2 separate regions of the Homo sapiens genome follow, and region 2 is linked to region 1. The links come from fine-mapping of genetic effects on gene expression. Tissue or cell type: caudate. Region 1 holds a variant in brackets; the other region holds the start of a gene. All regions are shown on one strand. Distances are between the middles of the regions.

Region 1 (5,146 bases):
TCATCTAAAAGCCGCCTGCTCTGAACGTGGGGCCCCAGTCCCGAGCCTCTTGCGTCAATCTTGGGGGAGTCAAGAACCCGCCCGGACCCTCTTTTCCAGCTCTCCCAAGGCCCTGGACTCCGGATCCCCTGGAGACGTAATCTCCGAAAGGGGGACATCCCCTCAATTCCTCCCTCCACTACCACACAAGTGGACTCCCGAGGAGGAAGGGGGCCCAGCAGAGTGTCCCATCCCCGGTGTTGGCAGAGTGGGTCTTCCTGCCCTCAAAGCCTCGCACGCACTCACTCTCAAAGGCCTGGAGGAAAAGCTCGTGGTCAGCCTGGACGTGCTCCATTTTCGACTTCTTCACCGGTAACGCCGCGGAGGAGGAGGAGGCCGAGTAACTGCCACCGCCTCCACAGCCCCCGCCGCCGGATTTGCCGCTCGAAGCCGTCGCCGCCGAACCCCCGAAGCCGCCTCCCCCGGACCCCGCGCTGGGCCCCGAGCCGCCCCCTCCCCCACCGCCGTGCTTCTGAGGCGCCATCGCGGTTCCTGCCTCCTTCCCCGGCCAGCTACTCGCCGGGCGGCCCCGGAGAGTAAGCGCCTGCAATACCAACCGCTCGCCCCAGCAGGCTCCGGCTGACCGAGGGGAGAAGGAGGAGAGAGGGGAGGAAAGGGGAAGGGAAGGCAGGAGGAGAGGAGGGAAGGAGGGAGGAAGAAAAAGTGTCTCCTCAGAGCCCCGCTCCGCTTCGGAGGCCGCTCACCCTACCCAGGCCTCGCTCCGCCCACTTCCCCCGCCCGGCGCTCTGATTGGCCGGCGGGAGCGCGCACCGCCGGGCCGCCCAGCCCGTTGGCCCGCGGATTCCCCCGTCAGTCACGCGGAGGCGCTTCTCGCGGAGGCGCGGCTTGGTTGGCCGGTGCGCGCTGCCGATCGCGGGCCCGGCCGCCTCTTTGAACTGAATTCGCGGGAAAATTAGGGGTCGGAGCGGCCTTCCTGCTGGCCCCGGTGCATTGTGGGGAGAGAAGGACCCAGCGAGCGGTTTAGAGAGTCTAGATCCTTAGTTTTTTGCCCCCAAACACCGTAAGAGCGGTCAGAGAGGTAAACTGGTTGAGAAGTACTTACATACACTCTTCTCTTCTTGAGGATCTATACCTTTTCAGCTCAGAAAGCTGAGAAGGAATCCGGTGTTTTGCGAGCCTTGCTTTTTTTTTTTTTTTTTTTTTTTTTTGAGACGGAGCCTCCCTCTGTCGCCCAGGCTGGAGTGCCAGTGGCGCGATTTCGTCTCCCTACAACCTGCGCCTCCCGGGTTCAAGCGATTCTCCTGCCTCAGCCTCCAGAGTAGCTGGGATTACAGGCGCTCGCCACCACGCCTGGCTAATTTTTTTGTGTTTTTATTAGAGACAGGGTTTCACCATGTTGGCCAGGCTGGTCTCGATCTCCTGACCTCGTGATCCGCCTGCCTCGGCTTCCCAAAGTGCTGGGATTACAGGCGTGAGCCACTGTGCTGGCCAGAAACACACATTCTCTGAGGCGGGCCCTCCAGCATGGGAACCCCTGCTCTGTCACATCCAGCTGTCATCCCAGCCTGTCCCATCTCAGGCTGTCCTGGGCTCTCAGTACCATCATTGAGCCAGCACTTTCAAATCTCTTATGTCCAGCCTGGAATTTCTCATCAGAGCCCCCATTACCATTTCCCTGCTGAAAACCAAAACCCTTGTAATTGGCCCAGTTAGCTCCCTGACCCCATGTCTGCTCCAGCCACTCCTGCTATTCCTGGACCACAGCAGGCCTTGCCCCAGGGCCTTTGCACCTGTCGCTTCCTCCACCTGTAGCTTCTGCCAACCCACTGTCCACATGGCCGGCTCCTTCAGGCCATTGCTCAGATGGAACTATTCACCTGGTGTATAGAATGTCCTCTTCATGGGGCAGGGATCATTGAACTGTTTTGCTCATGGTGGCCGCATCCCCAAATTTTACTTTTTTTTTTTAGAGATAGGGTCTTGCTCTGTCACTCAGGCTGGAGTGCAGTGGTGAAATCATGGCTCACTGCAGCCTCCACCTCCCAGGCTCAAGCGATCCTCCCGCCTCGGCCTCCCTAGTAGCTGAGACCACAGGTATGCGCCATCACGTCCAGCTAATTTATTTTATTTTGCAAAGATGAGGTCTTGCTATGTTGCCCAGGCTGAACATGAACTTCTGGCCTCAAGAGATCCTCCTGCCTCAACATCCCAAAGTGCTGGGATTACTGCTTGAGGCCATCACCATTGTTGTCTTCATATCCTCAACTTTTAGAATAGGCCTGGCACGCGGCACTGAATTATTTGTTGAATGAATCTCAGATCCCAAAGCTGAGACTCTGCCTTGATTCCTCACCTTCCCTGTCATCCCCCTCACAGAAGCCATCAGCAAGTCCTGTGGGCTCTGCCTCTCAAGTATCTCGCGACCTGCCCACTTCTGGCTCTAAGCACAGCACCCAGGCCCATGCCGCCATCCTATGTCACCTGTATGTTGTCCTGGCCTCCTTGCCCGCCTCCCAATCCGCCCTTCACTCAGAGCTAAGGGACCACATAATGATGTTGATCCGAACATTAACTGACCCCCTGGTCTCTGCTGGGGTCTCATTTCCTCACTAGAGCCCAGAGGCTGTGGGTGAACTGGTGCCACCAAGCTCTCCAAGCCCCATTCTGTCCTCCCTCCTGTTCCTGAAACATTCAACATTCCAGTTCCAGCCCCCAAGCAGGATCCCTGCATGTTGGCTGCGGCTGCTCATTGTTCAGGGCTCAGCCGCAAGGTCACCGCAGCAGAGTGACCTACCCTGGCCCCCTGCAAACAAAACAGTCCTCGCCTGCTGCCCTCACCCGCCATCTTTTCCCTGTTTTTAATTCACAGCTCTCAAGTGAGCACCTGAAATTACCTTTTTATCAACACGAGCTTCTTGAGAGAGGCCCTTAGAAATCAGCACACGGCTGGGCACAGTGGCTCATGCCTGTAATCCCAGCACTTTGGGAAGCCGAGGCGGGTGGATCACCAGAGGTCAGGAGTTCGAGACCACCCTGGCCAACATGGTGAAACCCCGTCTCTACTAAAAATACCAAAAAATTAGCCGGG[C/T]GTGGTGGCAGATACCTGTAATCCCAGCTACTCGGGAGGCTGAGGCACAAGAATTGGTTGAACCCGAGAGGTAGAGGTTGCAGTGAGGCTAGATTGTGCCATTGCACTCCAGTCCGGGCAACAGAGCCAGACTGTCTCAAAAATAAATAAATAAAATAAAACAAATAGGCACAGGCCCTCAATAAATAAAGATCCCCACAGGGCAGGACACCTGGTCCAGACCTCAGTCTCCTCACATGGGAAATGGGAGGATAATATCTGCAAGACAGCCCTGAACACCCCCTCTCCAGCCCTGTAGCTCTCTGCCCGCTTCCCCTCTCATGCCCACTCCTGATACCAGCTCCCTCTCCACTGCCCCAGCTTCTTCACTAAATCCCCCGCAGCCACCTCCAGCCCCCATCCGCATCTCCCCCCACATCCCTGACTAGACACGGCTGGTGTCACTTTCAGATCATTTTACAGCGTGTTACTCCCCCAGCCGCCACCAGCCCCCGTCCGCATCTCCCCCCACATCTGTGACTAGACATGGCTGGTGTCACTTTCAGATCATTTTCCAGCATGTTACTTTGGGGATGGGGAGTGGCTTCCTTATTTCAACTTCCTCATTTCTCCAACTGTCCAGCCACAGAAAGGTTCAGTGGAGGCAGTGTCCCCAAGCTGAGGAGTACTCCCCTCCCAGGGTCTCCAAGCGCTTTCTTTCACACTGCAACAGGCATCCTAGCAGAGGAACTGGTTAGGGGAAGTAAAAATGGCTGGATTTGTACGGTGACTCATGCCTGTGATCCCAGTGCTTTGGGAGGCTAAGGTGGGTGGATCACTTCAGCCCAGGAGTTCAAGGCTGCAGTGAGCTATGATCGTGCCACTGCACTCCAGCCTGGGCAACATGTCTCTAGAAATTTGTTTTTTTTTTTGAGACGGAGTCTCACTCTGTCACCAGGCTAGAGTGCAGTGGCACGATCTCGGCTGACTGCAACCTCCGCCTCCTGGGTTCAAGCGATCCTCCTGCCTCAGCCTCCTGAGTAGCTGGGACTACAGGCATGCGCCACCACGCCCAGCTATTTTTTGTATTTTTAGTAGAGACGGGGTTTCACCGTGTTGGCCAGGATGGTCTCGATCTCTTGACCTCGTGATCAGCCCACCTGGGCCTCTCAAAGTGCTGGGATTACAGGCGTGAGCCACAGCGCCCGGCCAAATTTTTTGTTTTTTAATTTGGCGTGGTGGTGCCCAGCTACTTGGGAGGCTGAGGCAAGAGGATCACTTGAGCCCAGGAGTTTGCAAGGCTGCAGTAAGCTATGATCCTGCCACTGCACTCCAGTCTGGGCAACAGAGCAAGACCCTCTCTTAATTAAAAAAAAAAAAAAAGGGCAGGGAAGCCACCCGATGCCAAGTTGTGTGGGCAGCGAATCCACATGGGTCTAGATCCCAATTTTGCCTTATACGTGCCCTGTGTGACCTTGAGCTGGTCTCCTCACCTCCCTGGCCCTGGTTCCCTCTGCGCTGCTATTCTGCAGGGTTCTGGTAAGGAGAGCAGTGCACGTACACGCTGGGCCAACACAGGCCCCATCAGAGGGTGCCATGCACAGCCTGGCGCCAGTCAGGGCACAAAGACACCCACGGAAGAGGCAGTCCCTCTCTTCCTCCCAGGCTGCACCCTAGAATGCTGAGACTCCAGAGTGGAGCCCCCGCTGAGCCATGTATACTTCCACCAGGAACTCCAAGGCATCTTCAGCCCAACCAGACCAATACAAGCCCCTACATCAGTGCACGGTGCCACCATCCTTCCAGGCCCTCCAGCCAGAACCCCAGGAGCTGAAAGCCTTGACTCCTCTTTCTCTCACCCCTAAATCCAGTTCAAGAGTAAGTCTTTGGGCTGTGTATACTTCCAGAACACCCCAGTGTTGGTCCACACATCTGTCTTCAGCATCTGCCCCTCTAGTCCTGGGCCCTGGCCACTCCCCAAGTGCCCTCTGGCCCCTTTGCCTCCGATGTCCAGGCTCTCCTGGCAGCCAGAGGCACCACCTCCTTTTTTTTTTTTTTTTTGAGACGGAGTCTCACTTT
Region 2 (5,146 bases), 94 kb before region 1:
TCTGAGAAGAGGTTGGAGACAGGAGAGGGAAAAAGCCTTTGCTGACCAGATGACCAACGTATTCTGATCTGAATCCAACTCTCTGGTTATAACTTGATTTTCCAGCTATTGTGATTTTTTTCAACAATTATATTCCTGTTGTAAATAAATAAATTGGCAAGCTGCTTAGTTTGTTTCTTGTGAGTCTTATTAGCAAGAGTCTGTTCCCTGGAATCCTCTGGGTACACTTGAAAAGTCAGTTCTGGACCAATGTGATGCCATGGAGATATCTCTGTAAAACTCTGTCTGATGGCTAGCTGACATCTACTTCTAAACCAGTTTCCTCGAGAACATTTACTCTTTAGGAATTCATGCTCTAAATTTAAAAACAATGCATCTAAAAATGTCAAGTCTAGGGGTAAGCAGTTTTAGAATATTTCCTTCAATTTTCTTATTTGTTTTGTTTTTGGGTATAGTGTAGATATGTTAGATACACACTTCTTGCCTTCCATCAGACTAAGAAAACAAAGTTGAATGAGACCAAGATTCATGTCCTGGTTTTATGGAAGTTTTCCTTGTAATTTTACTTATTTATTTATTTATTTTTATTTTTATAGACATAGGGTCTTGCTATGTTACCCAGGTTGGTCTCTAACTCCTAGGCTCAAGGAATCCTCCCACCTCAGCCTCCTGAATTGCTGGGACCACAGGAGGGCGCCACCACCCGCGGCTAATTTTTTTTTTAAATCTTTTTGTAGAGAGGAGGTCTCCTCATGTTGCAAAGGCTGGTCTCAAACTCCTGGGCTCAAGCAATCCTCCTGCCTTAGCTTCCCAAGATTACTGGTGTGAGCCACCATGCCCTGCCCATAAGGTTTTATTACATACAGTCACACCTATTGTGACAGATACCTTCCGGTCTGGCAAGCCCAAGCCCAGCTTATTCACTACGGTCCTTACAGATAACACTTGCCAACACCCTTCTTGGACTTGTGCCAGAATTGCTGTCCTGCTGGTCATCTCTTGGGCCTCTCTCTTGGATCCCCCATTCGTCCACGAGCTTCTGGGTGGTGACACCTGGGTTTTGTTGTTGTTTTTTGAGACCGAGTCTCGCTTTGTTGCCCAGGTTGGAGTGCAGTGGCACAATCTTGGCTCACTGCAACCTCTGCCTCCCGGTTCAAGCAATTATCCTGCCTCAGCCCTCGAGTAGCTGGGATTACAGGCGCCCACCACCACACCCGGCTAATTTTTGTATTTTTAGTAGAGATGAGGTTTCACCAGGTTGGCCATGGCTGCTCTTGAACTTCTGACCTCAGTGATCCACCCGTCTCGGCCTCCCAAAGTGCTGGGATTACAGGCGTGAGCCACTGCTCCCCGCTGACACCTGGGTCTTAGTAAATTCCCCTAAGGCCTGCTCTGCTCTTAAGGACCAGGGCTTTTGTCATCAGATCTGGGCTCAAATTCTGCGGCTTGGAAAAGTCGATTCGCTATTTTTTAAAATTTTTAATTTAAAAAAAAGTATTTTTTATTTAGAGACAGGGTCTCGCTCTGTCGCCCAGGCTGGAGTGCAGTGGCTCCATTACAGCTCACTGCAGCCTCGGCCCCCGGGCTCAAGCGATCCACTGGGACCACAGGCGTGCTCCACTACGTGTTGCTAGTAGTAGCAGTAGTAGTAGTAGTAATAGTAATAGTAGTAGTATTTTTGGTGAGAGAGGGTTTCGCCGTGTTGCCCAGGCTGGGTCTCGAACTCCAGAGCTCAAGGGATCCGCCCGCCTCGGCCTCCCAAAGTGCTGGGACTGCAGGCGTGAGCCACCGCGCCCGGCCGATTCCCCCCTTTATCCCTCAATTTCCTCATCTGAGCAATGGAGATACAGGTAGGGCTGAAGGTCAGGCAAGAATGCGATGAGCTGTGAGAAGCACTTGGCAAGGTGCGGGTTATCAACCTTGCCAGGCCTCAGCACGTTTCCCAAGGAGGCCCAACCAGCGGCGCTGTGCCGCAGCACGGAAGAGGCGGGGTGAGCCGCGGGGCGGGCGGCGCTGGGACCCGGACGCCACCCGCGCGAGGCGCCGCCGTGCGCCCGTCAATCAAGGTCGTCGTGGGGCATGGGGCGGCGGGGCTGGGCGGTGCTTCCGCCTGCGCGAGGCCGCGCCGGGCCGCTTGGAGGCGCCCGGTGCAGTCGGGAACCCGCGCTAGGTTTCGCCGGCCGCGCGGCCAGATGAGGGGGGCGATGGAGCTGGAGCCTGAGCTGCTGTTGCAGGAGGCCCGCGAGAACGTGGAGGCAGCGCAGAGCTACCGGCGGGAGCTGGGTCACCGGCTTGAGGGGCTGCGTGAGGCGCGGAGGCAGGTCGGAGGGCCACACCCACAGGGGCGCTGTGGGCCCGGGGGTGGCGCGGATGCCGGGCGAAGGCTGGGAGGGCTTTGAGGGGTGGGACTGTCCGAAAACTCTGGAGTAGGGAAGAGGCATTCATTTGAAAGGAGACCTAATGGAGTCTGGGAACGGGGAAGGTGGGAGTTGGGGAGGTCGTAAGGGGAAGTTTTGGGGGTGGAGGGAGGGTGTGAGGAGCGTTCACTAAACTGTGGGGCAGCGATGGGAGTAGCGGTGGCCTCCGAAGTTTGGGAGAGTGAGGGACCAGAGCAGAATCCGAGGGGGTCATGCGGGTAGTGATGAGTCGGGGGAGGAGGAGACTGGTAAAAAACCTGCGGTGGGTAGGCGGGGAGGCATTGATTTTAGAGAGCCTGAGGAAGAGGTGGGACAGTGACCTGGGAGAGCTGAAAGTGGAGACAAAATGGATATTGGAAGGGGAGGACTAAGGGGCGAGAGTGAGGGAGAGGTAGGGATTGAGAAGCAGTAGCATTTGACAATAAATGCGGTTAATGCCTGAATAATATGTCATACGATCTTGAATGCTTTTTAAAAAATCATTTAGAGTAATCCTGTTCTAGAAGGTTTAAAATTTAAGGTGAAGGTGAAGCTATGTTGGAAGAGCAGAAGGAAAATGATTTCCTTTTCCTTGAGAGAGGGAATACAAAGGTATAGAGAAATGGAAAAATAGATTTTAAGAGAGGAGTGCTGAAAGGAAAAGCTAAATATAATTTCAAGTGGTGCAGTTATCTGTTTCACAGGGCAAGAGTTATCAAAGATACAGGAAAGCCATATGGTTTCTCTATACCCTCGAATATATATAGAAAAAGATATAACCCGCTGCCAATTGGCGATAGGACGGATAATCTTCAGAGTACTATTAACGCAACTGCTTAATAAGTGCTTTTTGAGTGAGTGGGATTCCATCTGAATTTCTCTGGGTCATACTTGATATTAATCTAGTTGGTCGTCTTAGCACTTCCTTGCTGCATATAACCTGAAAATGGTAGAAAAGTGCTGTGCTAACAGTGTCTTTGGATATTCTCATCATTAACGACTCAACATGTTTTGGGTTTTATATATATATATAAAACATATACAAACATATATAAGTATGTATATATATAATCTGTTTTTTTTGAGACGGAGTCTGGCTGTGTCGCTCAGGGTGGAGTGCAGTGGCACTATCTCGGCTCACTGCAACAACCTCCGCCTCCCGGGTTCAAGCGATTCTCCTGCCTCAGCCTCCTGAGTAGCTGGGATTACAAGTCTGCGCCACCACACCCGGCTAATTTTTGTATTTTTAGTAGAGAGGAGGTTTCACCAGGTTGGCCAGGATGATCTTGAACTCCTGACCTCGTGATCCACCTGCCTCAGCCTCCCAAAGTGCTGGGATACAGACGTGAGCCACCGCGCCCGGCCGGGTTTTATATATTTAAAAATATTTGTAAAGCCAGTGTAGGCCAGACATCATTTGCATTTTAGTGGCGAAACCGGAAGCAGAATCTAGATATGATTATGCTGATTTGGTGAATACTTTTCAAGGCCTTTCAATGCACTCATCTCTATTTCTCTTTGAAAATATCTGCATTATTCCTTCTGCTATTTTGAAATAGGGACTCTAGATGTAAGACATTGTATGAAAAGAAAGATATTAAAATACCATCTAACATTTCAGTCAGTTAAGATGTATTCTATATGACCATGATTATTGTTTTTGTATTAGCAATTAAGAATCAGAGTTGACACTAAATGAGTGAGTTTAGCACCTGGGAGTAATTAATTTCTCTTGATATTGGATGCATTAAAAAAAATCGTGATTACACCCTAGATGGTTCAGTATTCAATTTTCAAACCTGTATTTTTTCAATTTTATATCCAACAATTTAAATACAGGACATGCTTTTCTGTGGTTTAGTTTATTATGAGCTTTGTTTTGTTTTGTTTTTGAGGCCCATTGTCTTGGGCTTCAGACAGAAAACACTAAATGAACATCGATCACAATTAGGTTCCTGATGACATTGCCTTCTGACTAGACTGAGTAATAATGTAGTTCTCTTTTGTGAGTGTGAGTCTCTTTTGGGAATGTGTTTTGTGCCAGTGGCAGTTACAACAGCATCTCTCGAAGCTAACTCTAGTGGATTGTGCATGTTTGGGTTTGTGGCATAAGTCCTCTGTCAACTTGCATTTTAAGGAAGGTCTATGGTACAAAAATATTATCAAAGTAAGCAGCTGCTTTTGTTTGGTGGTTTGGATATTTTTAGGGTTCCAGTCATTTTCAGAATAACTGTAAAATATATGGCACTTTAGTCAAGGATTTTGCATGGGAGAAGCATGAGAAGAGCAGAGAGGAAGGGATGCCACCTGTCGTCTGTATTTTTTACTTGCTGATTTTATATCTTTTTGGCAGATGATTTCTTTTCTTTTTTTTTTTTTTTTTTTGGCGGGGGTGCGGACAGGGTTTTGTTACGTTTCCCAGGCTGGTCTCCAACTCCTGGGCTCAAAAGATCCTCCCACCTCTGCCTTCCGGTGATGGAATTACAGGTGTGAGCCACTGTGCTGCCTGGCATGTGACTTTTTTTATTGAGATATAATTCACACACCGTAAAAGTCATGCCTTAAAGTTTACAATTCAGTGGTTTTTAGTATATTCATAGAGTTGTCCAACCATCACCAGTGTCTAATTCAAGTATATATTCATCACCCCCAAAAGAACTCCTTAGCTGTCACTCCCATACCCCCTGGCAACCACAAAACTACTTTGTCTCTATGGATTTGCCTATTCTGGTCATTTCATATAAATGAAC

Direction of the effects. Positions count from the first base shown, and alleles are read on the strand shown. Sizes are in standard deviations (SD) of each study's normalised expression.
With allele T in place of C in region 1, the expression in caudate of the gene that starts at base 2,152 in region 2 is higher (small effect, 0.34 SD a copy in GTEx).

What was found. PIP is the estimated chance that this variant, and not a neighbour inherited with it, causes the effect.
Region 2: CRLF3 starts here. The variant in region 1 is fine-mapped to the expression of CRLF3 in caudate (GTEx, PIP 0.94). The same link has a PIP of 0.9 or more in nucleus accumbens.

Annotation. Positions count from the first base shown.
Region 1 is chr17:30,727,263-30,732,408 of GRCh38, reverse strand. It overlaps the pseudogene SUZ12P1. Among named protein-coding and RNA genes, the nearest start is that of CRLF3, 95 kb to the left of the region's middle. RefSeq lists a silencer at 423-492 and an enhancer at 190-810. The variant C/T (reference allele first, on the strand shown) is at 3,089.
Region 2 is chr17:30,821,698-30,826,843 of GRCh38, reverse strand. CRLF3 (cytokine receptor like factor 3) reads left to right here and starts at 2,152. Exons shown (of 8, transcript NM_015986.4): 1 at 2,152-2,321. The coding sequence starts at 2,193. RefSeq lists an enhancer at 1,859-2,153 and a silencer at 1,861-2,240.